Homo sapiens: one gene and its partners. The protein of the gene in region 1 purifies or fractionates together with the protein of each later gene. This does not show direct contact. Each region holds a gene or a part of one and is shown on either strand. Other genes may lie near its edges. The genes, in order: ITGA3, CD9 and ITGB5.

Region 1 (7,540 bases):
TCAGCCCTGCTCCTGCTCAGCCCACTTCTTGGCCAAATTATTACAGTAGCTGCCTTCCCCCACAACCCAGTCTGTCCTGGCAAAGTCAACTTCATGTGGCAGCCAGAATGTTCTGACAGCCCCCTTTGTCCCACAAGCACCACCCCTAACATACAATGCAAAGTGGGTTTAGCCTGTTTAAATGTGAGAGCAACCAGAACATGAGGCCACATCCTGGCCTCCTCTAAGTCATCCCCGGGTTGGGACTCAGCCCAGGATTGGTACATAGTAGGCTGTCAATGAATGCTTGAGCCTGGCAGATTCTGAGCCAGGGGAATCGCCTGGACTAGGCCTGCATCTGGGCCATAGGAGAAGGAAATCTGATAAATCCATTCAATCTTCAGCACTCCTCCCTCCCTCCCTCTTCAGTAATTTGCATTTTCAATTCAAGTCAGATAGACCCCTGAGTCTCAGTCCAATAGCTGAGATTTGGTACACTTCGTTGAACAGATATTAGAAGGTTTGGGATACAATGAATGTAGATTGGGGAATAGTGAGAGATTTCTCTCCAGCCCTTTCATTTCACACATGGAGAAACCGAGGCCTGGAACGGAAGGTAACTTGCCCAAGGTGAGAAGGCAGAAGAGAGCTTGCATTCAACGGAGGGGCACACCATTGCAATTCCTTGTTATTTTTCCAGCAGCTGCCTGTGTGCTTCACGTCTCTGTGCTGATCTGCCCGAGAGGTGATGGTGTCCATTGGTGTGCTCTGGGGCTCTGGGAGAGTGAGATGAGGGCTGGGGAGAGGGCAGGTAGAGGAAGACTTGTGGGAACACAGCAAGCGCTAAATAAACAGAAGCCGCCTTTGTGGGATATTGACATTGTCATTGTTCCAGCTGGGAAAACTTCACCTGAACCAGGACCCAATTTTTCTGCCTCTCTTCTCCAGCTCCTTTCTTTCCCTGTTGTCCAGATACACCTCCTCCAGGGAGCTTCCATGACCCCCCAGCAGAACTCACCATTTGCATGTTGTTACGGTCACCTGCAGAGGCAGATGGATCCCATCCAAGGTTTGGTTTGAATGAAGACTGACGACACCACCCAAACACCAAGAGAGTATGAAAAGGTTTATTATTTACATAATTGAGGTCTCCAGGGGGAGCAGGGGCAGTCTTTCAAGCAGGTCCCAGATGTGTTGGGAGAGCCAGGAAGGAGACTGGCCTGGGTTTTTATTGTGGTTGAGGGGTGAGGGTTCCCTCAGGAAGGGGCTTGTGAATATTCCCCCTCAAACACCAAAGGAGGGTGCACCCAGACTTTCTTATCAGCTTGTCCAGGTGTAGGGCACAGAGAAGAGGGAAGGGTGAGGCTTAAAATCTGTCAGCAAACATCAACAAATGGACTTAGACTCCTCATTACACATATTATTCCTGTGTCCTTGTTTCTCTGTCTGTCTGTGTGTTTCTAGGTGGGTCTCTTCCCCATGGGGGAGGGTTGACAGATAAAGAGTTGACATGATAAAGTCAACTGAGGGATGAGATGATCCTACAGACGACGGTGCCACTGAAACCAAAGAACCCTGAGATTTCTCTTTCTCCATCTCTCCAGCTGAGATCCTTCTAGTCTCCATGTCTCCCTCCACTCCCACTCCATCTCCCCAGACTGGTCTGACACTCCCCCACATTCTTTAGCTCAGGCCCTCCCCCTACCAGTCGCCCCTGCTCTGCTCCACATTCCCTCTGGACACTCCCCTGGAGTGGAAAAACCATCCCTCATCCCTTTCCGGCTCCCAGTCCCAGGATCGGACATGCTGGTCATTCCTGTTTGGGATGTCCAAAGAGATAAGGCCTGGCATGGGGCCAATCTGTCATCGCAGGACTCTCAAAGCTGTTTCAGGCAGGATCCTCACCCACATGGCGTTTCCACCCTAAGCCCCTGCCCTTCTTACCCTGGCTGGCTCCTCTTCTCCAGGAACATGGCAGAGGACTCAGGAGCCAGGCAGAGAGCAAAGATCACTGTTCAACTTCCATCCAGGTCAGCTTCCTGTTCCTTGACCCCACATGTCTTCTAATCCCTGCAGGCCCTGGGCCACAAAGCAGACCATGAGAGAGGCTGGGTGGCTCTGGAAGTCAGAGGTCAGGAACAAATCCTGTTCTAAGGGCCGTTAGAGACAAGTGTCTTCTCCCCAAACACCACAGAGAAAGCTGTTATCACAGCTGCTTTTGTTTAGGCATGTCTAGCTGTCTGACAACCATCTGCCTGGAGTTTGTCTTCTTAAAGACACGGTTGTGGTCAGCGGCTTCAGTCCTAGCTCTGCCTCCCATAAAATTCAGATCTTGGACAGGCAGGTAACCTCCTGAGGCTCTGTTTTCTCCTAAGTCAAATGAATATCATAATCCCCACCTCACAGGGAGGCCAGGAGGATAAAATGAGCCTGCTTGTGAAATGATTTGTAAACTGTAAAGCTAGGCCAGGACCCTTTCCCAGGCTCTGAATCTAATTTTGTACTCATAATTCTTATGAGTACAAAATAATTTTATTCTTAAAGAGCACCCCAGATTGCACAAGCTTCAGGACCCACCAAACTTGGACACGCCCAAAGTAGTGTATAAATGTTCATTATTAGCATAAGTAGTTAAGGGCTCCAGGGTCAGATAACACAGGATGAAAATCCTAGTTGTGTGACCTCTGCCAAATTGCCTAACCTCCCTGAGCCTCATTTTTCTCGTTTTAAAACAGAGATAACACTTCAAAGATTGTTGTGAGGATTTAACATTTGTGAAGCATTTAGCATAGTTCCTGCTGCGTATGTGCTTAATACATGGTGTTTTGTTCTTATTATTTTAAGAATAGATGGAGAAAAGAATGCTCGGGGAGGCCAGGCAGGGTGGCTCACGCCTGTAATCCCAGCACTTTGGGAGGCGGCGGGGTGGATCACGAGGTCAGGAGTTCGAGACCAGCCTGACCAACACGGCGAAACCCCGTCTCTACTAAAAATACAAAAATTAGCCGGGCATGGTGGTGGGCGCCTGTAATCCCAGCTACTCAGGAGGCTGAGGCAGGAGAATCGCTTGAACCCCGGAGGCAGAGGTTGCAGTGAGCGGAGATCGCGCCACTGCACTCCAGCCTGGGAGACAGAGCGAGACTCCGTCGTCTCAAAAACAAAACAAAACAAAACAAAAAAACAATGTTCCGGGGAAAATGGGTCTCTGAGCTGCAATAAGAGAAATGTGAGTTAGATCCAAGAAAGTACATAGTAACCTCTTTTTTTTTTTTGAGACGACGTCTCACTCTGTCACCCAGGCTGGAGTGCAGTGGCGCGATCTCGGCTCACTGCAACCTGCGCCTCCCGGGTTCAAGCGATTCTCCTGCCCCAGCCTCCCAAATAGCTGGAACTACAGGCGCCCGCCACCACGACCGGCTAATTTTTGTATTTTTTTAGTAGAGACAGGGTTTCCCCACATTGGCCAGGCTGGTCTCGAACTCCTGACTTCGTGATCCGCCCTCCCCGGGTTCCCAAAGTGCTGGGATTACAGGCGTGAACCACTGCGCCTGGCCAGAGTAACCTCTTGAAGTTCCCTTTCGATTTGATTCCTTGGTGGAGGAGACCTTTAGTCTCCGCCCACTTACTGCCACCTGGCCCTACCCACCAAACACCTGATGGGTGCTGACGTCCGAGCCCAGTCTCCAAACACTCTGTTCGAGCTTGGGTGGGAAGAGGGAGCCTCTGGGATTCTGCTGGGCTGGGCCCTGAAGGCAGGAGTGGACGAGAAATGGATACGGTCTAGGCTCAGCTTCCCGGCTACGCAGTGCGTTCTGTGAAGGACGGACTCATTTCTACATTGACAGTCTTAGCCTTTGATACCAGAAGTCGCAGCACTTAGGGGGAAAAATGCTTTTTGGTAATTATAATTAGCGACATTTGGTTGTTACCACTGCTAAATATGTCTGTCTTTGCTGAGGAGCCAATCTCAGCTCGGATCAGGGTGAGTGGATAGGAGAAATAAATCTCGGCAAAGACAGCGAGGGGCCTGAGTGCGAGGAAGAACTCCCAGAGACCGCCAGCCACCTCTTGGGGACTCACAGCGCTGCGGAGGCGAGTCCAGCATTCTAGCCAGCCGCGCACGGACGTCGGTTCCCAGATGCGCCAATGCCAGGTCTCTCCAGCCCGGCTGGCCTTTTCAGCAGCAGCAGCAGCAGCCGCAGGAAAGCGGCCAGACAAATCCCACCCCCGGCCCCGCCCGTCACATCCATCTTGCTCCCCAGGCGACGCTTTCTCGGAGAAGCGAGGGGCGGGGAGGGGAAATCTAAGCCTTTGGGGGTTGCCGACAGGTGTTTGGGGGAGAAGGCGGAGCTGGGGTAGGGAGGATGAGGAGGGAGGGGCGGTGCTGCCCCTTTAAGAGGAGGCGGCCGAGCCGGGATCTTTTTCTCTTTCCCCGGAAGGAAAGCGCAGCCCGGGCTGGGCTCGCAAGGTGGGGAGGTGCGGGACTGGGCGTGGGGAGGCGGGGCGCGCGCCGGGGGACCCCTCCCTCCTGTCCTCCTTGCGGTCGACCGGTGCGCTTGCCAGATCCGCCGCGAAGCCGGGATCGAAGGCGACAGCGCGGCCAAGGGGGCGCGGCCGGGACAAGCTGGGGGCCGGTTGCCCGGGGCAGGGACGGCGGCGACCCGGCCGCTGGGGAGGCAGGAAGATAGACCCACGGATCTTAGGAAGGGATCCGAGAGCGCAGCTGTGAAACTGGCTGGGGCTGGGGGCACGAAACCGATCAGCGCTACGGAGCGCAGCGGCCGGCGGGTTCCAGTGTCCTCCGGCGGCGCGGGGAGCAGGTGAACAGGTCCTCACGCCCAGCTCCGCGCCCTCACGCGCTCTCGCCGGGACCCCGCTTCCGCTGGCAGCCATGGGCCCCGGCCCCAGCCGCGCGCCCCGCGCCCCACGCCTGATGCTCTGTGCGCTCGCCTTGATGGTGGCGGCCGGCGGCTGCGTCGTCTCCGCCTTCAACCTGGATACCCGATTCCTGGTAGTGAAGGAGGCCGGGAACCCGGGCAGCCTCTTCGGCTACTCGGTCGCCCTCCATCGGCAGACAGAGCGGCAGCAGCGCTACCTGTAAGTGAAGCTGGAGGGTGTGGGGTGGGAGCGAGAGAGTGTGCGAGCGCGGGATGCGGGTCCGGAGCTGAGTCGGAGCCCAGGGCAGCTGGCCCTTGGGAGCCAGGATTAAGGGGCGGCCCTCTGGCTGCTGGGGGTTGGCGGGAAGTGGAGGATTGGGTGTGGGGTCGGGCAGTAATCATTGGCAAGTGCTGACGGGGCCAGAACCTGTCTGGACGCCACCCCTCCGCCCTTTAGATCTCTCATGAGAGCGGAAGTGGGGTCCCGGTGGCTGAGTCCTCTCCCATTCTGTGAACCGAGTACCCAGCACTAGCCTGTTCTCTCCAGGGCTGGGAGCTGGGGTAAACTGCAAGATAAACACCCAGCGGACTCCCCCCTTCCCGTACGCTTGGGGGAAAAATGAGCATATACATTTAAGCACCTCGCTGGTAGTCTGCGGCCACGCCAGCCACACCCTCTGCAGAGCCAGACTGGATGGCCTTCTCAACCGCTGGCTTGGCGGATGGAGGGTGAGGCGATGGGTGAGTCTGGGCGTTTGGAGCTGTCCATACGCTCCCTCTGACGCCTTGAGGATAGGGGCGGTGAAAGAGAGAGGAGGACTTGTCCCAACTCTGGCTGGGTCTCCTCCTGCCCACCCGCAAGCAGTGGCACTCTCCCCGCAGACATCTTCCCTGCATTCCACAGATTCGTGTTGGATCTTCAACCCTGAGTGTGTTTGTTTTGGTTTGAAGAGGGAAACAGTGTTTTTCTCTTTCTTCTGTTCTCCTTCCCCAACAGCTGCAAGGAGGAGGGGAAGAGCTATGCACAGTGGAGGAAGGAGGAGGAGGTTGCACCCAGCCTCCTGGGTCCCCCTCACTCCACCAGACGCCCTCATGCCCAGGAGCATGTCCAGGCTTCAGAGGTCTCTCTGCCGTGGCCTCAGAGCGCGCGGAGGTTGGCGGTTGGGGGAGGTGAAGCTGTCCAAAGAGGGACGGTGTTTAGGACAGGTTAAGCAGGTACCATCCACCACTTTGGGCTGGGCGATCTGCCAGGCATCTGCCCCCACCTAGCCTCTGCCCCCACCTGGCCTCTGACCCCACTGAACAAGAAGACGTGGTCACATCCAGGGTACACTGGAAAATCTCCCTGCTCTGGCTGGGGCCTGCAGAGCTTGAGGAAGTTTAGAATGTCCAAAGTCCAAACTCTGCCCCCGCCTTGGTTCTGCCCTCCTGACCCAGCCTACCTACCTGGACTTAACCTCAACTCCATCTTGCTCTTGCAGAGGCTAGGGCTACCACACCCTTCCCAGCCTGGCCCCAGCAGCTGCCACCTGGCCTTAGCCAACCCTCTATCTTTTGGAGATCCTGAGCCACCATGAGCACAAGTTTCTACATCAGCTCTTTCTGCCCTAACTGAGAAAAAGATTTTCAGACTTTCAATGCCAAATCTGCATGATATAAGATAACATAGGTAAAGAGATCAGACTGGAAAGAAAGAGTCAATAATGATTCCGCAACCCTTTTGCCTGGTGACCTTGAGCAAGATATTTCCCCTCCCTGGGCCAGGTTTCCCCCAAAACGGGTTGGACCTGGATCTAGTGCTCTTTCCCACTGCTGCTGGCCTGTGAGAAGCAACTTGATATGGTAGAGGGAGAAGAGGCTTGGAGGTCCCATGGCCAGTGTCCTGTCTCAGATCTGTTACCAATACCTGAACCTGAATTTCCGCACATGTTGGAGGGAGGGGAACAGCATGCCTTCTGCTGGGATGTTAGTGGGGCTGTAACGAGATAAAGTGCGTAAAATCCTCTGCACATGTGCCTTTCTCCAAGGAGCACCTGAAGGCTCTTGCGCTGAGGCCAGAACCTGGATGCATCCTCATTACCCATGGGCCCCGCCCAGGGTGGCTGAGCAAAGGGGTTCTACTTTTCTGTCTGGGAAGCTGGAGCTGGCATTCAGCCTGCCAAGAGCCCAGAAGGTTCTAAAGCTAATGAACCTCTGAGGGGCAGTTCTCTCCCTTGAGTATCCTCAGTCTTTCCTAAGGGTGGTTCTGTGTCTTGGCCCTTCTCTTCATCTCACTAAATTCGACCCCTCGGCCATTTGGGAGAGCCAGCTGGGCTTAGCTGCAGCCAGCTGTGTAGCCAGATGCAAACAGCTGCCTGAGTGCACAACTCAGAGGAACTAACTAGTAAGACGAGCTGCAGCCTCATATTCTGTTAGCCTGAAAGTCTCTTTGGAAAAGTGGGATGGTTCGTGGTCTTGGACAGGCTCTTAAACTGGGGTTCGTAGAAGGTTTTCAAGAGATGCAGGGACTCCCTGAAAGTGTACCCAAAATCGTAGTATTTGTCCACTGCCCTGGGGGTGGGAGGAGGGGAGAGCACAGCTTTCTTGTTCTCCATTCATAAGGCCTCAGAAATGGTTAGAAACCCAGGGGTGGGACCCTCTTTGCTGCCCCATCACCTTCATCTCTGGACTGGGGTTCCTGGTCC
Region 2 (11,004 bases), on another chromosome or scaffold:
GCACGGCGAGAGCTCAGCCAAGAGCGGCTCTCACTTTTACGCAGGAGCGGCAGGGGTGCCTCGGCCGCGGGTCCGGCCCCGGGACCCAGTCCCTGAGAGTCGGGGGCCCCTCCACCCTTGAGGAGGAACCTCGCAGGCCCCCGTTCCCTCAGACTTTGATTCTGAGCCACCGTGAGAGCGCCGAACTCCCTGGTAGCTCCCTGAAAGACTAGCTTGTCTTGATTTCTTTCAAGGACGATAAGTATCTTCACTGGAGAGAACTCAGAGTTCGGGAGAGGAGGGGGCAGATACCTATCTGCGCCTCTAGTGGGATGAGTCCTGTGTGTGCATTTCCGGGAGAGATCAGGTGCCAGCCAGCTGCCCGCCCAGGAGAGCCTTGGCCTTGCCCTCTCCCCTCCCCGCCAGCCCAGGCGGCCCACCCAAGGCCAGGCAGGGCGCAGAGCGGACGTTCATCTGGAGAGGCCAGCGGGGCCAGGAGCTCCAGAGACACCTGCTGCAGGCCACTCAGCCTCTACAAATGGGAAGGCTGAGAGGCGACAGAAGCAAGGAATAGGAAACCCTTGTGTCCTTGTTTCTATAGCCACATTCCCTGCACACACATGACAATACTTGCCGCTCTGCAGGCAGGAAGAGAGTCTCTATGCCACTCTCAAGATAGATGGATGTAGAAACAGGTGCATGCCACCAGAGTCTTGTAACAAAAAAGTGCACTTGGCCAGGCACAGTGGCTCATGCCTGTAATCCCAGCACTTTGGGAGGCTGAGGCAGGAGGATCGCTTTCATCCAGGTTCAAGACCAGCCTGGGTAACATAGTGAGACCCCCATCTCCACAAAAAAATAAAAAATTAGCTGGGCGTGTTGGCATGCACCTGTGATCGCAGCTACTCAGGAGGCTGAGATGAGAGGATGGCATGAGCCTGGGAGGTCAAGGCTGCGGTGAGTCATGATTGCACCACTGCACTTAGCCTGGGTGACCTAGTGAGCCCTGTCTCAAAAAAAGTAGAAAAGAAACAAATGCACTTATTCCCCCTGGAGCTGGTCACTGAGGTCCCCACAAGCCTCCTTAGGGAAATCTTCTAAGATTCACTCCTCCCCAGAGCTGAAGGGGTGGTTGAACAGTTTTTCCAATTTGCAGAGACTGACTTCCCCCAGTGCATCAGTCACCATAACACACACCCCAGTGAGGACGGCATATAGGTGTGCTCCTTCCCAACCCTTGACTTGCTTTAAAAAGACCCTGCTGGCCGTGGGCACCCCTCCTCCTGTGTTGCCACCCACCCCAGCAACCACCCAGCTGCCACGCTTAGCTTCTTTCTTTCACCAATCCCTGGCAGCAGAAAAGTATGCGGGAAGGCAGCTGGCCTCACCCACCCTTGAACTTTGGGAGTTTTCCTCTCCCCTCCCAGGTACAGTCTCTCCCGGCTGGTGTGTTGGTTAGTCCTCAGCTGTCTGCCTAGACTGCATCCAGGTTTGGGACTGCAGGGAAACACAGACTGCCACAGTGTGCCTCCCTACCCCCATCTGCCCCATGGCATATGCAGGAAGCTGATGCGAGGCTCACAGGGCCACTGGTATCTACTCTGTCTGTGGCCTGCTGGCCTGCAATCTGTCCGTACTGTCCTCAGCCTGCCACCCCACTCGTATTCAGAACCCCCTATGCCTGGCCCCAGCCTAGGTGCAGCTGATGACCTATGTAGTCTGAAACAGAAATCACTCACACTGGAAATGTTTGGAATGACTTTTGAAGATCATGCAGTCCAGCTCTCTTATTCATAGTGAGGCAGCAGAGGAAGAGAGATGGGGTGATTTACCCAGGATCGCAGAGACAGAGCCAGTATTACAATTCCTGGGGCCCCTACTTTACTTCTGTCCTCTTCCATCTTCATCAGAGGCAGGAAGATGGGCAGTAGCTATGTTTTCCTGAATTACTGTTCATTTGTCCTGTATCTGGGTCCCTGTGGAGATGAAGCCCTCATCCCTAGGAGATGATGTAATGAAAAGGAAGACTGTGGTCGGTCCACTTGTGCAGAGTGTTAGTCTTTAGAGCCTTTCTTGTTCTAGTCCCATGATGTAGCCAAGAGCAGGAAGCATTGTCCCCACTGTACTGATGATCAGGAAACCATTTCCCAGAGAGGTTAGGTGACTTATCCAAGGTGATGCGGCAGGGTGGTCTCAGAACTAGGTTACTTTACCCAACTGGTTTTGGCTGCTGAGTGGGAATGGGAGAAGGGTGGGAAGAAGCTCCCAAGACTCCCTTAAGGAAAGGTGTAACCTAAGGGAACTGCTTGGGTGATTATGTTGTCACCACGTCCGTTTCTCTCTTGAGACCAGACATTTATAAACTTGGCATTCGGAACCTGATGTGGGCCTTGAAAAGCAGGAATTGTGAGGCCAGTGCCCAGCAGCACTTTGCACAGAGGCTGCTGAGAGGGGGTGTCCAACAGGCATCCAGAGAGAGGCCAACCTCAGTGGAGTAGGATGGTTATTGGGGGGCTGTGCCTCTTCCCTGGCCTGATCTCATCCCTGTGGGTCACTCCCTGATGGCCACAGCCAAACCAGCAAATCAGTCTGTTCTTCCACCACCTCCAGAACCGGCCCTCCTAGCTCTATTTTGATTGTTTCTACATTTCCTTCAGACCTCCCTGCCCGCCTGCCCACCCCCCAAAAAACAGTTGAGAGGGAAAACATCTTGCTGATGTCCATGTGGTAGACACACAAGTATTTCTCCAGCTGAAATGGGGAACCAGGGTTAGGGCCAGTCCAGTCTGACACATGCATGTCTGCCCTCTTTCTGGTCAGAGAAGGGGAGGAACTCCTTAGGGCAAAAGAGGGAAAGGTTTGGCTATACTGACAGAGCCCAATCCCCTCCCCACCTCCCTCAGCCCCTTTGCTTACTGTCTCTCATGCCTCGCTCACTGATGGAAACAGCAGTGTGGGGCTGGGAGGTCTCTTTCCCAAGAAACCATATCCCCTAGACCTAGGGGAGGCTGGTGCGAAACACAGAGACCTACACTGGGAATTCAGAGACCTGGATGTGAGCCCAGCTCTGTCCTCAACTCACTTTGAAACCTTGGGTTGGTCACTTCTGTGCTCTAAGCCTCAGTTTCCTCATCTGTAAAACAATAGCTTGGAACAAATGGTCTCAAAAGGTCCTTTCAAGCTCAGTCTATGAACCCAACACCCCTACACATACCACATACAACAATAGAACTCTCCTACACAACCCAAAATAGGAACCAATATTGGGTACGATGTATACTATGTTGGTGATGGTCACATTAAAAGCCCAGACTTCACCATGTGTAACAAAACTACATTCGTGTCCCCTAAATCTATAAATAATAATATAATAAACAAAATACAAGCCCTGAATTGGAAATGGGAGATGGATACCAAGGCTTGAGTCCTCAGAACTTAGCTTTTCTTGGCCTTTACCTCTGGAGCAAGAGCCCAGCTGGTGCTTTTCTTTGCTGTTGCTTCTCAGTTCCCTCTCCTCACCCTGGGTGGGGTCTCTCTCAGGGGTGTTCATTGCCCGTATACCTTAGTACTTGGCCTAGTGATCAAAGCACCAGTCCTGGGTTCCATGTCTCATCACCAGATGGGGCTGGTGACCACCCCACATGGTGCTGTGAGAGTTAAATGGGGAGTATGTGTAGTGCACTTAGCATAGTAGATTGCACCAGACATATCTTCCAACAGTAGCTATTGTTATTCACTAGTGGAGAGTAGAATGAGGCCCTGGGGAGGGTGAGAGCAGTTCTCTAAGAAGTGTGGAAGTCTAAACCGCAGATGTGGCCAGGAGGACCCTCCCAATCCACACACTGGCCTCCCTGCCCCTTCCTGTATCAGTGCCAACTTTGTCCTGTGCATCAAAACCCTGACTCCATTTCATGGGTTGCTACTGCTCATTTGGCTGCGGGAAGGCCCCGCTTCTGAAAATAAAATTGCCTGTCAGAGAAACCCTAAGGATCAGGATTCCGGATCTGGGCAGGGCATGGACAAGTTGGGTGGCAGTGGCAAAAGCCCCTCCCCATGGTCTGCCTTTTCCCCCAGAAGCAAGTTGCTGGGACTGTTGCATAAAATGGCTCCCACCTCCAGTGCCCAGACAGCCTGCGCTGGGGTGAAGCTGGCTACACGTGCACTGAAGCTGGCAGGCTTGGGGAGAGGTGAGCTGAGGCCAGGTATCTGCTTCCTTTGCCCAGGATTTTGATGGTCTCTCCCCTACACCCACAGTGGGTGTGAACAACAAAGACCCAATCTTTTGATGGTGGTGAGGATTCCTCTGCACACGCTCACACTCACGTTCTCTACCCCCTTCTTTTCAACGTGGCCCACAGCACGATTCCAGACCCTGCTCTATTGTGCTCAGAGGAAGCAGCTGCTGGCTCCAGCCCGAATTTGGGAGTGCTTTGATATGCAGCCCTCTCTGGGGCCCTGCCAGTACTGACTCTAGATGAGCCCTCTGCGGCTGCTGGGCTCACAAATCAGCCTTCTCACCCCTTCCTCCAGGAGCAGTGTTGGATGAGAATCTCCCCCTTACACACATAGATCCTGTGTTTGTTTTGTCTGCTTTTGTTTGTTTGTTTGTTTTTGTTTTCCTGTTCTGTTCAATTTTATAAGGAGGCATAGCTTTTGGACTTGGTTGCAGGGTTGGGTTTGGAACTTAATAATACCTTGGATTGACAAAGGCGCCTTTTCTTCTAAAGAACACAAACCTTGATGGTTCTTGCCTGGGTGTGGTTCTCACCTGGGTGAGCCTGGCTGTGAGGGTAGGGGGCCTGAGGTCACCCCAACCACAGCTTCTGTGGTCCTACTGGCAGCATGTTCTAGACAGACCTGTGTGGAGCTGGGGAAAGGAGAGTGGAGAAGTTTGAGGAAGCTGCATGTTTATGTTTTGTGTTCCTCCCTCCCCCAGGTTGGGGTCAGCGGGACTTTATTTGGATCCACCACAGGTCTTTTCAACCAAAGCCTTGCAGAAACAGGCTTTACCCCATACACACAGAAGAGCAACGACTTCCTTGTTAAGAGTCTGAAAATCTGGGTGAGAGCCTGTCAGACCCATGGCCTCAGAGAGCAGGAAAAATCCTTTGCAACTGGGAAGGAAATTCAGAAGACAAAAAAAAAAAAAAATGCAGGGGAATAGGGGGCGGGGGCTAGTCTTTATACATTTCTTTCTTTCTTTTTTTTTTTGGAGACGGTGCTCACTCTGTCACCCAGGCTGGAGTGCAGTGTTAACAATCATGGCTCATGGCTCACTGCAAACTCAACCTCCCAGCTCAGGCGATCCTCACACCTCAGCCTCCTGAGTAACTGGGACTACAGGCATGTGCCACTACACCCAGCTAACCTTTTAATTTTTTTGTAGAGACAGGATCTCACTATGTTGCCCAGGCTGGTCTCAAACTCCTAGGCTCAAGCGATCTGCCAACCTTGGCCTCCCAAAATGCTAGGATTACAGGAATGAGCCACCGCGCCTGGCCTACATTTCTTAAATTTATGTTTTAAGGCCTGACTACAGATTACTTGCCTGTTTTATTCCATGGAAAAAGTCATGCTGGTCCAGGGACATTCTCATTTTCCATCAAGTGATGGCATGCAGCCGTAGAAAGCAACATCCTGTCCCCAGATGAGATAATTTTTTTGTGATAATTTTATAATAATTGTATCTATCTGGTAATTTCCTCCCCCCGCCTCTCCAAAAATACTTAGTTGTGGATAGTTTTAAGTGCTATATCCTGTCATCCTAGACTAATACATCTTAACGTTTTTAGGGAAATTCCTTTTTAGGGAATTCCTTGGAATCAGTACGACCTGCCTCCAGAAAAATGTTATGTCTGTTTCTGGAGGCCCATAGACATTTTTTTTTTTTTTGCCTTTTTCTCCATTGCCCAGGCTGCAGTATAGTGGCACCATCATAGTTCACTGCAGCCTCAAACTCCTGGGCTTTACACAATCCTGGCCTCAGCCTCTCAAGTAGCTGGGACTACAGCACACACCACTATACCCGGCTAATTTTTTTGTACAGAGAGGGTCTCTCTATGTCGCCCAAGCTGGTCTTGAACTCCTGGGCTCAAGCAGTCCTTCAGCCTCGGACTCCCAAAGCACTGGGATCATAAATGTGAGCCACCACGCCCAGCCTGAGCTCACGCTATAAATGCCCCATATTGGTTTTTCTCCCTCAGTTTCCAGACAACCCCTGCTCTGTCCTGAGTCCCATATTTCTGCCATAAGAAGCAGGTTGCCTCACCGTTCCCCGGGGGCTGCAATGGGGGCATCACAGGGGACTTTGTGAAAGGCATTAGAAATGATAAATTCCCTAGTGATCAAGTGCAGCTCAGATGGGACAGCTGGCCTCCCACCCATCCCTCTGACTCTCAGCTTAATCATTGCCTAAGGAGTGGTTTTCACTCGGTTAATTTAATGAGTGCTCTGTATTTCTAGTACACACGAAAAATGCAACTGTATGATCTTCCAGCCAGGTTGGGCCTCTTGGCTTAGCTTTTCCCAGAGCTTGGTGCTTCATCTTTGTTCAGGAAGAAAGGAGGTCTGTCTCTCTTCTCCTTCCCTCCAAATGCAGACGGAAAGTCTCGTCCTCTGAGGACTTGCAGAAAGGAGGAATGTCTCAGGAGGGATCATTTGGGGAGCTGCACTCCCAAGGAGTTGAGAAGCAGCCTGGTTGAGTAACTGGGAAAGGCAAAGCAGCCTGACTTGGAGAGGGGCCCGGATTAATGTGATTCCAGAGGAGGTCCCGGTAGAGAGAAGTTTGGGGACTACTGACTTGGAGAAAAATCAGAAACCCGGGTCTTAAGAGCCCTTCCTCTTCAATCCTTAAGCCAGGCATTGTGCCTGAGGGAAGAAATAGTGGCTCTTATGAGCTCTGCTAGAAAAGTAACCCTTCAGGCCAGGCGCGGTGGCTCACGCCTATAATCCCAGCATTTTGGGAGGCCGAGACAGGCGGATCACCTGAGGTTGGGAGTTTGAGACCAGCCTGGCCAACATGGAAAAACCCCCTCTCTACTAAAAATGCAAAATTAGCCAGTCATGGTGGCAGGTGCCTGTAATCCCAGCTACTTGGGAGGCTGAGGCAGGAGAATTGCTTGAACCTGGGAGGCGGCGGTTGCAGTGAGCTGAAATCGTGCCATTGCACTCCAGCCTGGGCGACAAGAGTGAAACTCCATCTCAAAAAAAAAAAAAAAAGAAAAGAAAAGTAACCCTTCACAGCTTACCCAATGCACATCCAAGTTTCCAGTGACACCTCTGAGCAGGCTAAGCAGCTGGTGGCTCCTGCCAAGCCCTCTCCTCGGAACTGAGCTTCACAGCTTCAGGTGCCAGTCCCTTGCTGACACTCCCAGTCTAAGCTGTGTGTTAGTCTCCAAGTTCAGAAACAACACAATACATGGGTCATAGGAGAAGAACCTCGACTGAGGCTAAAAATACCATAAAGTTAATCAGGCAGTTTTATTAATTATGAATTTATTAATTCAAAACCTATTCAAGGATTTTAGTTTTTTTTGTTTGTTTGTTTGTTTTTGTTCTTTTTTTTTTGAGGTGGAGTTTCACTCTTGTTGCCCAGGCTGGAGTGTAATGGTGCGATCGCAGCTCACCGCAACCTCCGCCTCCTGAGTTCAAGCCATTCTCCTGCCTCAGCCTCCTGAGTAGTTGGGATTACAGGGGTGTGCCACCATGCCCGGCTAATTTTTAGTAGAGACGGGGTTTCTCCATGTTGATCAGGCCGGTCTTGAACTCCTGACCTCAGGTGATCCACCCGCCTCAGCCTCCCAAAGTGCTGGGATTACAGGTGTGTAGTTTAATGTCTTTTAAACCTAAGTTGATTGAATGTAGTATGATAATACAGTGTACTGATTTATTAAAACTCTAAATGAAATGATCAGCAAAATCATACTATTTGTGAACTCATCATTGCTTTTTTTGTTGTTTGTTTTGAGACAGAGTCTCGCTCTGTCACCCAGGCTGGAGTGCAGTGGCGCAATCTTGGCATACTGCAACCTCTGCCTCCCAGGTTCAAGTGATTCTCCCGCCTCAGCCTCCTGAGTAGCTGCGACTACAGGCACATGCCACCACGCCCAGCTAATTTTTGTATTTTTAGTAGAGATGGGATTTCATCATGTTGGCCAGGCTGGTCTCACCTCAGGTGATCCACCCACCTCTGCCTCCCAAAGTGCTGGGATTATAGGCGTGAGCCACCGCACCGGGCTCGTCGTAGCTTTTCAAGTCAATAGAAATCTGGTGTTTGAATCCACATCATGTCTTCCCTTGTAGGTGGGCAGTTGCAGTGTGTAGTGTGCATGCACACCCCAGATTTATGCCCAACTCCACTGGATGTTTTCTGGGTGGGGAGTCATCCATACCTCCCTCAGCGGCCCCGTTCCTAGAGACGGGAGGCCCTTCCCACTAAGACATATTCCTCCTGCTCTCCATGGTGCAATGTAAACATCTTCTTTCTCACAATGTGGGACTGTGGATTTAAATTTATTATTGCTAAGCTCAGATGTTTTAAAGCTTCCTGTCTACAAGCCTGAGAAAATCTCTTCATACTCTCCTTTCCTCCTCTCTAGTCAAATTGTAGCCCTGGCTCCCTAAGACACAACCCTTTAGAGACCCAGACTGCAAATTTCTTTTTTTTTTTTTTTTTTTTTCTGAGATGGAGTCTCATTCTGTTGCCCAGGCTGGAGTGTAGTGGCACAATCTCGGCTCACTGCAACCTCTGCCTCCTGGGTTCAAGCGATTCTCATGCCTCAGCCTCTTGAGTAGCTGGGATTACAGGCATGTACCACCATGCCCGGCTAATTTTTGTGTTTTTAGTAGAGATGGGGTTTTGCCACGTTGACCAGGCTGGTCTCGAACTGCTGACCTCAGGTGATACGCCCACCTCGGCCTTCCAAAGTGCTGGGATTACAGGCGTGAGTCACCGCGCCCAGCTGGGACTGCTCATTTCAAATAGAAATTAGATTATCTTCTAGGATGAGGAGGGACACTTTGGCCTTCTTTGTCATGGGAGGCTGGCACTCTCCTCTAGGACCCTGGGGTGTGTCTTGAGAGCTCGTGCCCAGGGCTATAACACAGAGAGGCCTGTGCTGATGTCATCTTGTTCTGCCCTTTGCTGGCAGGGTGGTTCTGGGGAAGGGCAGAGGCTCCGGGTCCCACTCTGGGGCTGTTTTCACGGGGGATGGAAGGACCATGGCCACTGAACGGGCTGCGGTCCCGTCTATGGACACAATGCCAATGGGCAGCTGCAACAGTGCAGCCAAGGGGAAAGGAGGATGTGCGAGTTGCCCTGGAGAGTCCCTTCCCAGAGCGCCGCCTCTGTCCACCCTGACTATATGACCAGTGGAACCAAGGGTGTGGCTGAAGCTCTCAGGACAAAGGCCAGGGAGAGGAAGCACCGGCTGTTTTTTTTAGACTCTCTTCGAGCACCCACTACCCCCACTGCCCCCAAGCGAGGCCAGGTGTAGGTGGCATCTCCAGCCCAGGTGGCCATGCAGCTGCCCTGCTGTCAGGGAGGAGGCGCGTCTGCAAGCTGCCTTCCTTCCGGTGCAGATGGGCTCCCTTGTGGCCTTTAAAGATCGAAAACACCACTTTGAAATGGGATTAGATATGAATGGGGGGGAAACAGGCAAAAGGGAAAAAATTCTGGCTTCAGAATAGAAGAAATGGATCAAAAACACAAACAGCTTAACAAAATAATTGAGAATTGGGGCTCTGCAGTCAGACCATTCTGGGTTCAAGTTCTAACTCTGCCACTTACTTGCCCTGTGATCTCAGTTGAGCAACTTTTTTTTTTTTTTTTTTTTGAGAAGGAGTCTCGCTCTGTTGCCAGGCTGGAGTGCAGTGGCGTGGTCTTGGGTCACTGCAACCTCTGCCTCCTGGGTTCAAGCGATTGAACAGCCTCAGCCTCCCAAGTAGCTGGGATTACAGGCACGCACCACCATGCCTGGCTATTTTTTTATATTTTTAGTAGAGATGGGGTTTCACCATGTTGGCCAGGCTGGTCTTGAACTCCTGACCTTGTGATCCTCCCGCCTTGGCCTCCCAAAGTGCTGGGATTACAGGCTTGAGCCACCGTGCCCGGCCCGAGCAACTTAACTTTTGTGCCCCAGTTTTTTCATCTAAAAAATAGAAGACAATATTACCTCTTTGGTGGGCCTATTCTGAAAACTAAATAGTTCTGGAGAAGTGCTTAGGGTGGGGTTGTGGAACATAGATAGCAAATATTTGAGTACTTGCTGCTAGTAATTAGGTGACCTAATATGAAGAAGGAGCTCCTGGCAGAGGGGTAGGGCAGGTTGATAGGTTAGACAAGAGTTTGGGGATCTTGGCCTCCCTTGCTGGCTTGGGGTTTGCAAGATCCCATGTTGGAGCAGGAGGGCCGTTCCACCAAGCGGTGCCGGAAGTGCTTTTAGCCGACCCTGCCACTCCAGGCACCACCTGGCATTGCTTGAAAACTGTCAAGGAAGGAGCATCTCCCACCACTCAGGGCCACGCACGCACGTGGCGGCCAACTCTGCAGATGGAATGAGAGCAAGCTGCTGCAAGTGGCTAGAGTGTGTCAGCAAGAGTGTGTGCAGTCATCGCCAGACAGCTCGGCGAGGCATACACAACGGAAAACAAATGTGTGGTATTCTGGAATTTAAAGCAAAACATCCAAAACAATCCCCCACATCAGATGATTTTGGTTAAGATCAGAATGCCTGCTTTCAGTGGAAAAGGGATTTATGGGCTGGCCAGTGTATGCTACGCGTCTGGCAAGCAGGCAGTGGAAACTTGAAATGGGATTTCTTGTTTAGAAAGAGGTTACCTTGGGCTGGGGCCTCCCTCCCAATCAGCCCCAACATCCTAACGCCAGTACACTTCACTGAAGCTTTTCTCCTCTCCAGGGCAGAGGAAGGGCTCCAGGTTTTTAAATGATGCTGACTTTGTCCTTGAAAGGAGGGAAGATTTCTCAACTCGAACTTGTTCAGACCAGGTAGCTGCCTAATTTCCAGA
Region 3 (11,004 bases), on another chromosome or scaffold:
GTCCTTGTGGCCGGCCGGGAGCGGGCGGGCTGCTGGGGGGATGCCGTCGGTGCCCTGTTCCCGGAGAAGCAAGGGAGTCTCGAAACCCCAGCCAAAGCCCGGGGCCACCTCCACTCCGGAGGGCTCGCCTCCTGGAACAGCGGGTGCACAGGGCCCACAGCGAATCCTGGAGTTCGCTGCGCCTAGGCTAGCCGCCTGCCTTTGAAGATGCAGCCCCCACCCTCCCCGCCCCCCGCCTGCTTCCTCCTCGCCTAGGCCACCGCAAACCCGAGGGGGCACCCGCGTCCCAAACCACAGCCCCACCTGGGACTTCCCTATTAAATTCCTTCTGCCCGACTTTATCCCGCGATTTGCACACGCTCGGAGCCTCACACTCCCCTAACTGTGGAGGATTCTGGAGCAGAGGACAGGGGCTGTGGAGATTGCCTTAGCCCGACGCTGCGGTGGGCTGGCAGCGTTGCAAGGATCCCTCGGTTACCTGCTCTAACTTTTCAGAGTTGGGAGATGATTGGACGTGGTAGTTTGGAGGCCCTCGAGGAAGGATGCACTTGTTTGGGATGCGGATTTTCTCCTTTCTTTTAGGAAATAATAGTGCTCTATTAACTTTCAAGCCGGAGATACTTGATTGCTCTTGTGAGCCAAGTGGTTGCCTGGCTGCCCGAAGGGAGGACTGTTCCCCCACGGTGTCTCATTTACATGAAGGCAGTGGAGGTTTAGGTTTAAGAGCGGAGGAGGGGTCTGAGCAAACAATAACTTCGTTCAGACCCTAATTCAAACTTAATACTGTAGCAAGGTTTTTGGTTTTTGTTTTAAATGGGAAAATAATCACTCCAGAGCTTGGAGAGTAGATGAGTGGATTCCAAACACCCATCCGGCAGCCAGTGCCCATCACGGATATTTTCATGGGTCCCTAGGGAAAGCGAGGAGCAGGAAGATGTAGCCTGCATCACACAGGAATGTATTGTTGTCAACGCTCCCCTGCTCCACAAGGACTTTCCTTTAGTTTGAAATTAGGCACTTTTTCTTTTTTTGGTGGGAACATTTTCTTTTAATACTTCTTAATAATATTAGTAGTTTTTAATTTTGGCAAAATAAGAAAATCTGACAACCCTATGTTAAGCTCCCCTTCTCTTTTTCTGTTTGTTTCTTTTGTTTTGTTTTTAAATCTTAGTTTTCTTTGAAATCCAAAAGTTCAGAAACTGCCAAAGGAGATGGCTTTTAAGTTCCTTTCCAGCTTGACATTCTGTAATTCTGACAAACAGAATTATAATAATAATTTCTAGTTGCAAATAATTTTTTTTTTTTGAGTCAGAGTTTCAGTCTTGTAGCCCAGGCTGGAGTGCAGTGGTGCCATCTCGGCTCACTGCAACCTCCACCTCCCAGGTTCAAGCAATTCTCCTGGCTTAGCCTCCCAAGTAGCAATGATTACAGGCGCTGCGACCATGCCCGGCTAATTTTTGTATTTTTAGTAGAGATGGGGTTTCACCATGTTGGCTGGGCTGGTCTTGAACTCCTCACTTAAGGTGATCTAACTGCCTTGGCCTCCCAAAGTGCTTCAATTACAGGCATGAGCCACCACGCCTGGCTGCGAATAATTTCTAAAAATACATTATTTTCCACTTGCATCTTGCTTTCTCTTTTTCAGAGTTCACGTACATCTTCACGGTGATGTCCATTTTCTCATATGGGCTCAGGAAGGAAGTGACTTGCCCTTCCCCTCTACTTGGGTCAGGAGTGGTGGACCAGGGACCATGGCTTTTGGTCCAGTGCCCTTTGTCCTACCGACTCAGCTTAAGGAAGAGAAAAGCACTGAGCATGGTGGTTCATTTGCAACTCTTTTGGGGTCCTGTTTTCCCATTGCCTATCTTTTCTTTTCTTTTTTTTTGAGACAGAGTCTCACTCTTGTTGCCCAGGATGGTGTACAGTGGCATGATCTCAGCTCACCACAACCTCTGCCTCTCAGGTTCAAGTGATTGTCCTGCTGAGTAACTGGGATTACAGGCATGTACCACCACGCCTGGCTAATTTTGTATTTTTAGTAGAGACAGGGTTTCACCATGTTGGTCAGGCTGGTCTCTAACTCCCAACCTCAGGTGATCCGCCCGCCTCGGCCTCCCAAAATGCTAGGATTACAGGTGTGAGCCACCACGGCTGGCCTCTGCCCATCTCTTTGACTACAGGTTTTGGTGGTGGTGGTGGTGGAGCAAGCCATGGCACTGGCCTCCAGAACTTGCTGCTTACCTCTTAGGGCCCTGAAGCTTCTCAGGATTAGCAGAGGTTGACTCACATCTGTGTCATTTCTCCTAGTTTTTCAGTGTTGCTGAATTAACTTCAACATTCTTTTTTTTTTTCTTTTTTTTTTTTGCTTCCCTTCCCTTCTTTGTTTTCTTGAAGCACTACAGGTACTTTATTCAGGGAGTGTTTCTGTCTTGCCACTAGGAACATTATTTGAAAGAAAAAAACCTAGTTACTCAGAGAAAAGAAAGAGATGACCCTCAGGGCCATGCCTGCCTGGGTGTTCCTGGACCAGTGGTTGAGTGCCTCTCTCTGTTGCTCTAACCCCACTTTCATCTCAGTACGGATTTCCAGCAGGAAACTGACCTTAGGTTTCAGGGGCTCATTTCAAACAAGTCCCTGGCCGGCTGACAACCCCCTCCCGTCCCCACCAAGGGCTATCTCCTGCTCTTTTTATTATCTTATGGCCAAGAGCCTTCAGACAGAATCCTAGGATGTGGTCTTCCCACAAAACCAGGGGTCTCACTGAGGTGAGGCTTTTCCACGCTGCCTTTGCTAAGACAGAGAGAGGAACACCGTCTTATAAAGAGGATCCTGCAACACCGCTGGAATTATGTGTGCTATCACATTCATTTCTTTTTAAAAAAGCAATCGAATGTTCTTCTAGTGAATGCTCTGCACATCCTAAGAAAGCCCTTTGTTTTATTTAGTGGACTCATGTTGGCAGCACCCTTCCTCTACCCCCAACCCCCTACCACATTTCCTGTGGTCTGTGATGGGGTTGTTGGAATTTGGCTGGGTCTGCAGCTCTCTGTAGGTAACCAGGCACAGGTTTAGAGCTGACAGGACAATGAAATACAAACAGTGGGTTTGGTCTGTAGACTGCTGTTTATCCTATGGATTTACATTTTAACTCCATCATCCTTGAGTTGGGGGAGCTTTTTATAAAGGGGATTGAGGCAGAAGAGGGCAGGGTCTAATTAGCTCTAATTAGTATTCCCCGCCTGCTTGTTCTCCATGCTTATTTAGCTACTGAGGCAACGGGGAATTAAAATATCTAAGTAGTTTGGCAAAAGGCCTTTTGTGCCTGCGTGGCCTGGTAACTACTTTTTCTTATTCAGCCTGGCCATGGAAATATTCTGAGATGCTTTAACGATATCAGTAATGTGGGACAATTACAAACTACTTAAATAATAGGGCCCCTTTCACATGGCAGTGTGCAGCTGGGTTAATGGGATAGGGTCTCTTTTCACAGGTATTTCCAGTTGGCTGGAGCCGAGGGCCTTGGAGAACTGACTGCCGTGGTTTGTTTTCCTTCTTTCCGGTTCGAATGGGATTAATGGCCTCTATAAATGTAAAGGAATGCTTTATTTAGAGGCACCCATTTGTTTCTGAGGCTTCTTGCTTCCGTTGAATGCAGGGTTTACTTCCCGGGCCTCATGGTGAAAAGTTTGCTCTAAGACAGGCTTGACTCATCCCCTAAGGCTGATGCTTTGAAGGCACTGCGGGGTACCCTGCCCTCTCTTTATAGGATTCCCTCCCCAACTCCAGCCAGACATTTTCAGAGCTGGTTGTCTCTTGTAGAGCTGGGACCTACTTCTGCAACTTGTTCTCTTTAGTTATTCTCAACTGTCCCTCAGAGTGATCCTGAGATCCAACTCAAGTCAGATCATATCTCTCTGCTTAAAACCTTCGAATGGTTTCCCAGAGTCCTGCCAGGCTCCACGAACTCTCCACCTACTTCTCTGACTTTCCTTCACCACTTTCCCTTCGATCCTTTGCTCCAGCAGCATGGGCCTCCCACTGTCCCTTCAGCGTGCCAGCCATGCTCCCATGGCAGCCCTTCTCCCTGCCTGGAATACTGTCCTCCAAGATATCTGCATGACCGGCTTCCTCCACCCTGCAACCCTTTTTCTAGCATCTCCTGCTCAGCCAAGTTTTCCCTGGCCGCTCCCAGCTAAAGCTGCAACCTCCTCCCTATATCCCGAGTTCTTTTTATCTGCTTTTCTTCTTTAATTTTTGTCCTTAGCACTCACCACCATCTAATGTAACTACATATCTTCTTCACTATTTCCCCTAAGTAGAATTCTCCCCCAGCCAGGATGTGAGCTCCGTGAATAAGGGAGTCTTGTTGGTTTTATTCATCTCTGTATCCTCCATGCCTACAACAGCACCAGGCACATATTTGTTGAATGAATAATGGATGAACCTGAATCTTGGTAATTGGGAGGTGAAGAGGGCGATGCATCCCGTCCTCAACTCCCTGTTGCCTTCCACAGCTAGCTTTGAAGTCAGGGACTATGCATGCGGCTTGTTAGGAAGAAACATCCTGGGAGAAAGAGATTCTGTTGGAATGTGTCAGGATTTTTTTTTTAATTGGAGTCTCACTCTGTTGCCCAGGCTGGAGTGCAGTGGTGCAATCTCTGGTCACCGCAACCTCTGCCTCCCAGGTTCAAGCGATTCTCCTGCCTCAGCCTCCCGAGTAGCTGGGATTACAGGCGTACACCACCGCACCTGGCTTATTTTTTAATTTTTAGTAGAGATGGGGTTTCACCATGTTGGCCAGGCTGGTCTTGAACTCCTGACCTCAGGTGATCTGCCCACCTTGGCCTCCCAAAGTGCTGGGATTACAGGCATGAGCCACCACTCCTGGCTTTGTGTTAGGATTTTTTGAGCTGGTATGGAGGCCATTTGGTCTACTCCCTGAGTTGTTTGCATGAGGAAGCTGAGGCCTGGAAAGGTTAAGTGACTTGCCCTAGGTCACATAACCAATAAGTGACAGAACAAGTCCTCTGATCTTTTATACCCAGTATATCCTGTTCTCCTTCCCTACATCCCTGGGTGGAGCAGAACTATCTCCTCCTCCTCCTGCTTTCATGGCCCATTCCATTAGAGAGACTGGGGGCTGCAGCTGGTCTGTCTCACCTGCTACCTGGTTAATAGCCCTGGTCTTATTTACCTGTGTCCCTGACACAGCCACAATGCTTGGTACTCAGATGATCCCTTCTCTCACCCCAGGATTTTAATGGGCTTAGAAAAACTTTATTTAAAAGATTTGGCCAGGCAGGGTGGCTCACACCTATCATCCCAGCACTTTGGGAGGCCGAGGCAGGCAGATTACCTGAGGTCAGGAGTTCGAGACCACCCTGGCCAACATGGCAAAATCCAGTCTCTACTAAAAATACAAAAATTAGCCAGGCATGGTGGTGTGCACCTGTAATCCCAGCTACTCAGGAGGCTGAGGCAGGAGGATCGCTTGAACTTTGGAGGCCGAGGTTGCAGTGAGCTGAGATCACACCACCGTACTCTAGCCTGGGAGACAGAGACTCTGTCTCAAACAAACAAACAAACAAACAAACTTTTACATATGTACTTTTTCTTTTCTTTTTCCCTTTCTTTTTTATTTTATTTTGAGATGGAGTCTCACTCTGTTGCCCAGGCTGGAGTACAGTGGTGTGATCTTGACTCACTGCAACCTCTGCCTCCTAGGTTCAAGCCATTCTCATGCCTCAGCCTTCCAAGTAGCTGGGATCACAGGCACGTGCCACCATGCCTGGCTAATTTTTTGTATTTTTAGTAAAGATAGGGTTTCACGATGTAGGCCAGGTTGGTCTTGAACTCCTGACCTCAGGTGATCTGCCTGCCTCAGCCTCCCAGAGTGTTGGGATTACAGGCATGAGCCACTGTGCCCGGTGTCTCTTTTATTTATTTATTTATTTTTTAAAAAAAGACAGAATCTCGCTCTGTCACCCAAGTTGGAGTGCATTAGCGTGATCATGGCCCACTGTAGCTTGAACTCCTGGGCTCAACTGCTCCTCCCACCTGGTCCTTGCAAATTGTTGGGATCACAGAAGTGAGCCAGTGTGCCTGGCCCTTAAAAAAGCCTTCAAAGAATTTAGAGCAGTTTTAGATTTCCAGAAAAATTGAGAAGATAGTGCAAAGAGTTCCCATCTACCTCACACCCAGTTTTGCCTATTATTAACATCTTACATTAGTATGGTACCTTTATTATAATTAATGAACCATATTGATATGTTATTATTAACTAAAGTCCATCAGTTTAGATTTCTTTAGTGTTTACCTAAGTCCTTTTTCTGTTCTAGGATCCCATCCAAGATACCACAATACATTGAGTTGTCATGTCACCTTGGGTTCCCATGGCTGTGACAGTTTCTCAGTCTTTTCCTTGTTTTTTATGACCTTGACAGTTTTAAGAAGCACTGGTCAGATATTTTGTAGATCATCCCCCTCTTGGGATTTTCTGATTTTTTCCCGTGATTAGACAGAGTTAGGTGATTTTGGAAGAAGAACATAGAGGTAATCAATTGCCTCTTTAAAAAAATACCTTTTGATAGGTAATATAGTCCCATAATTTTTAAAAGTATAACTCATATCAAGCGAGAAGCCTCTCTTTCTTGTTGCCCATCAGTGTGGGATATTTCTGTGACCCCCTTTTCTAAATAAATTGTGCCTATATAGTTCCTATTATAAAGCTAATAAGCTTTCTTATGTATCCTGAGGGTTTCTATGGATATGTTACGAATATCCCTCTTTCATTTTTATTCAGAGGCAGCACAAAACACAGTATGTATCTTGCTTTTTATTTTTAACTTAGCGATGTATTGGGGTAAGCTTCCTGTCAATACAGAGAGCATGCTCATTCTTTCTTTATAGCTGTCTAGCACTCCATTATATGAATTGGTGTTTTAAAAATAGAAGTCAGATCTGTAAGGCTGGTATTGTTGAGTGTTGTGCAGATGTCTGATGTTCATAAAGGCAGTCTTGAATGAGAACTGCTGGGATAGAACCTTCCTAGGGCATATTTGCATTTCATGGTAACATTTAGACATATGGCTATTTAGTTGCTGGAGTCTATACTGGGACTCTTTTGTCCATTGTGTGACAAATGTGAGGGCCTGGTTCAGGGTGTGGGGAGAAGCATTCCAGGGCATTGCCATCTTCAAGGCAGAAAGGCCATTTCAGCTTCTGTATTCACTTCTGTTATCCTACTGAATATTTTGGATCAGGAAATTCCAACTGCAGATGTATGTTTTAGTAGTAGTTGTCTGACCTTGGACCCATGGGGTGTACAGAAGTGGAGAGAGGCTGAATGGAAGGAGGCCAGCCAGGAGGCTATGGCAGGAATTTAGACCAGAGGGCCTGGCTTGGGTTGTTGGGGCTAGAGGTTGCAGACAGGAAGGGTTGGCTTAGGATAAACATTTCTTGCATCTTGAAAGGAGTGATCAACCGGATGCGGTGGCTCCTTGAATGATTGATGAAACACAGGGGTGAGTCAGTGAATTTTGGAAGAACATATTTTTAGATTACAGTTTGCAGTAAACACTGGGCTTCAGAGACGTGAGGCAAAAGAGATACATGGAGTTGCCACCGAGCTGGGAATAGTCACTATGCAAACAGCAAAGAAGATGAGATGTGGCTATCATCTGGGCTGCTAGTTCCTGTTTCCATGACCTAGACCTAACACTGACATTTGTGAACTCCGTGTGTTTAGTTTTTTATTCATTGCTTCCTTCCTTTTCAAAATGCTTATTGGTGCCAAATGACTCATCCAGCAAAGTCCAAACTCTGAAATATTAATAGGTGGAGAGAGGAGAGATGCCAAAGGGAGTGAGTCTGACATTACACATACCAGCACACAGCCTGTGGTTTTGGATCCTGGAGTACCTGTCTGGTACCTGGTACCCGGCACACTGTGAGTTCCTGGACATCAAGGGCTGGTAGGTCATTCACCTGTGCATTTCTAGCATCCCCCCAGTCCAGTGCTCAGCGTTTAGGGTGTGTTAAGTGCAGAGTTTCTTGAATTTGAATGTGTCCCAACAGCAACTGAATTTTAGGGCAATCATTTTGAGTACAAACGACTTTACTTTTCCATGTGAATATTTAATAATAACAGAAACAGTTAGTAATGCTATATGACAAATTGTTTTACAGTTGTTCATGATGTTTTCATACCAGGTGACTATCACATCCTTTGAGTTTCTTTGGTATTGTGTCCAATTAAGTAAGGGCTTTTAGGCTGGTGGACCAGAAGACCAGAGCTCAGTCTGATCTGCATCAGAATTGAGGAGCTCTTATTGTCCTGAGCCCTGGACCTCCAGCCCAAGTTCCCAGAGCTCATGATGAGGCTCTGGTAATTATAAAGTGTTGTTTGCAAATGTATGTGGCTTTGAAGCTGGATACGGTGGCTCACGTCTATAATCCCAGCACTTTGGGAGGCTGAAGTGGGCAGATCACTTGAAGTCAGGAGTCGAAGTCAGAAGACCAGCCTGTCCAACATGCTGAAACCCTATCTCTATTAAAAATACAAAAATTAGCCAGGCGTGATGGCATATGCCTGTAATCTCAGCTATTCAGGAGGCTGAGGCAGGAGAATCACTTGAACTTGGGAAGCAAGGTTGCAGTGAGCCAAGATCATGCCCCTGCAGTCCAGCTTGGGCAACAAAGCAAGACTCTGTCTAAAAAAAAAAATTATGTGGCTTTGATCAGAGTCCTACGTGAGGCCTTTGACCTCAAATTCCTTTCTGATAAAGGGGCTGTTACAGATCTCCAGAGGACCCTAGAGCTCAGCAGGTCACACCAGCCCTACATCCAAGATGGCAGAGGGACCACCAGGCAGGTATCCCATGTGGGCACTTGCTGGTCAGGACCCCGTCTGACCTCTTTTTTGTAGATAGGGCTCCTTGTTTCAAGTCACATACTCTCATTATCTTACATTTTCATCTATAAAAAGAGGCAACTTGACTAGCTCATCTTAAAACAATCCTAGCCCCAAGGTGCTATAATCTCATGATTTTATGAAAATGATTTTATATATCAAAGAAAAGGATATGCCACAACGAGCCTGAGTTTGTATTTGATAAGGTTGAGGAGAGGAGGAGCAAAGTTACTTTCATTCTAGATTTATTTTTTTTCCCCTGCAGATAGTGATTGCTGACAGGTACGGGGATTTGACCAAAAAATGGGACTGACATTTTGCAACTCTTTTCCTGCACACACTTTTGTTTTTAAAGGCTTAAGTGCCTATTTAAAAATCACTAAGTGAGCCAGGTGTGGTAGCTCACGCCTGTAATCCTAGCACTTTGGGAGGCCCAGGCAGGAGGATCACTTGAGCCCAGGAGTTTGAGACCAGCCTGGGCAACATGGCAAGACCCTGTCTTCCACCACAAAAAAAAAAAAAAAAAATTAGCCAGGTGTGGTGATGTGTACCTGGAGTCCCAGCTACTTGGGAGGCTGAGGTGGGAGGATCACTTGAGGCTAGGAGTTTGAGGCTACAGTGAGTTATGATCACACTACTGCACTCTAGCCTGGGCAGCAGAGCTAGACCCTGTTTCAAACAAAGAAAAAAAAACAAACAAGAAATCAAAAAAAAGAAAAGAAAAGAAAACTCACTGAGTGAGTGAATTCATTTAAAATTAGGAGGTTGTCAGCACATACACAGGCAGGTCCAGCTTCCCAGTAGGTTGTGTTCTCAGACCTTCTTCGTCCACATTTGGCCCTGGATGGCTTTTCCTGCTGAAGTGAGGTCAGGCAAGGTGGGTGGGTCCCAGCAGCCTCAGATCCTCCTGCTGTAGGCCTCCCTGGGTGAGGTAGATAAGGATGAGGAGGCCTAGGGTTCAGGGTTAGGGCTGGTGGAAACCTTTGTTCTCACCCCCTGTGGGTTCTCAAAGCCTCTCTTCCTTTCTTCCTAGCCTCTCAGCTTCTGCCTGTTTCTCCCTTCCCTCTGGTCCCAGCTACTATCCTTATGCCAATTGGTATTTCTTCCTTCTAAAGTCCCTGGGGTGACATGATAAAGCTTCCTTCCCCTACCACCACCTCCTGCACCCACCCCTCTGCCAGTCAGCAGTTTTGCCGTTTGCGATTTCTGTGAGTTTTTACTGCTAGTGACAAAGGAGAAGCAGGGAGTTAAAATTAGCAAATTAGGGAAATGTTCCAGTTGCAAGATACTGGTTTGTTTTTTTTTTAACCCCTATTTTGGCATTTCTTCTCTTTTACTTTTTAAATTTTTCTTTTCTTTTTCCAGCTTTATGGAGGTAGTTGACAAATAATTGTGTATATTTACAGTATATGATATGATGTTTTATTATATGTATATATTTGTAGTGATTACTACCATCCAGCTAATTCACATATTTATCACCTCCCATAGTTATCTTTGTGTCTGTGTGGTGAGAGTATTTAAGATCTACTCTCTTAGCAATTCTCAAGTGTGCAATACATTATTATGAACTATTTTCACCATTCTGCACAATAGATCTCCAGAACTTATTCATTCTCTCTAACTGGAACTTTGTACCCTTTAACCATCTCGCCTTTCTCCATCCCACCTCAACCCCACCAGCCATGGCAACCACCATTTTACTCTCCGTATTTCTGAGTTCAGTTTTTTTCCACTCCACGTATAAGTGACATAATGCAGTATGTCTTTCTGTGCCTCGCTTAATAGTGTCCTCCAGGTTCATCCATGTTGTCCCAAATGACAGGATTTTCTCAATTTTTTAAGGCTGAATAGATTACATTGTATGTGTATACCACTTTTTAAAAATACCACATTTTCTTTATTCATCTGTCTGTTGATTGCATATCTTGGCTGTTATGAATAGTGCTGCAAGGAACATGAGAGTGCAGGTATGTCTTTGACATACTGATTTCATTTTCTTTGACTATATACCCCGAAGTGGAATTGCTGGAACACATAGTACTTCTGGTTTAAGGAACCTCCATATCATTTTCCATAATAGCTGTACTAAT

Evidence for each region.
Region 2: the proteins of ITGA3 (region 1) and CD9 purify together in Homo sapiens (affinity purification with western blotting; 3 studies listed by BioGRID and IntAct, with this or other methods). This does not show direct contact.
Region 3: the proteins of ITGA3 (region 1) and ITGB5 purify together in Homo sapiens (affinity purification with western blotting; 2 studies listed by BioGRID, with this or other methods). This does not show direct contact.

The regions. Positions count from the first base shown.
Region 1 is NC_000017.11:50,051,570-50,059,109, forward strand, and holds the start of ITGA3 (integrin alpha-3 preproprotein), read left to right. Parts: upstream 1-4,540; 5' UTR 4,541-4,870; coding exon 4,871-5,076; intron 5,077-7,540.
Region 2 is NC_000012.12:6,201,044-6,212,047, forward strand, and holds part of CD9 (CD9 antigen), read left to right. Parts: intron 1-11,004. UniProt on the Homo sapiens protein: Integral membrane protein associated with integrins, which regulates different processes, such as sperm-egg fusion, platelet activation and aggregation, and cell adhesion.
Region 3 is NC_000003.12:124,875,572-124,886,575, reverse strand, and holds part of ITGB5 (integrin beta-5 isoform a precursor), read left to right. Parts: intron 1-4,715; exon of another isoform or gene 4,716-4,733; intron 4,734-7,886; exon of another isoform or gene 7,887-7,973; intron 7,974-11,004.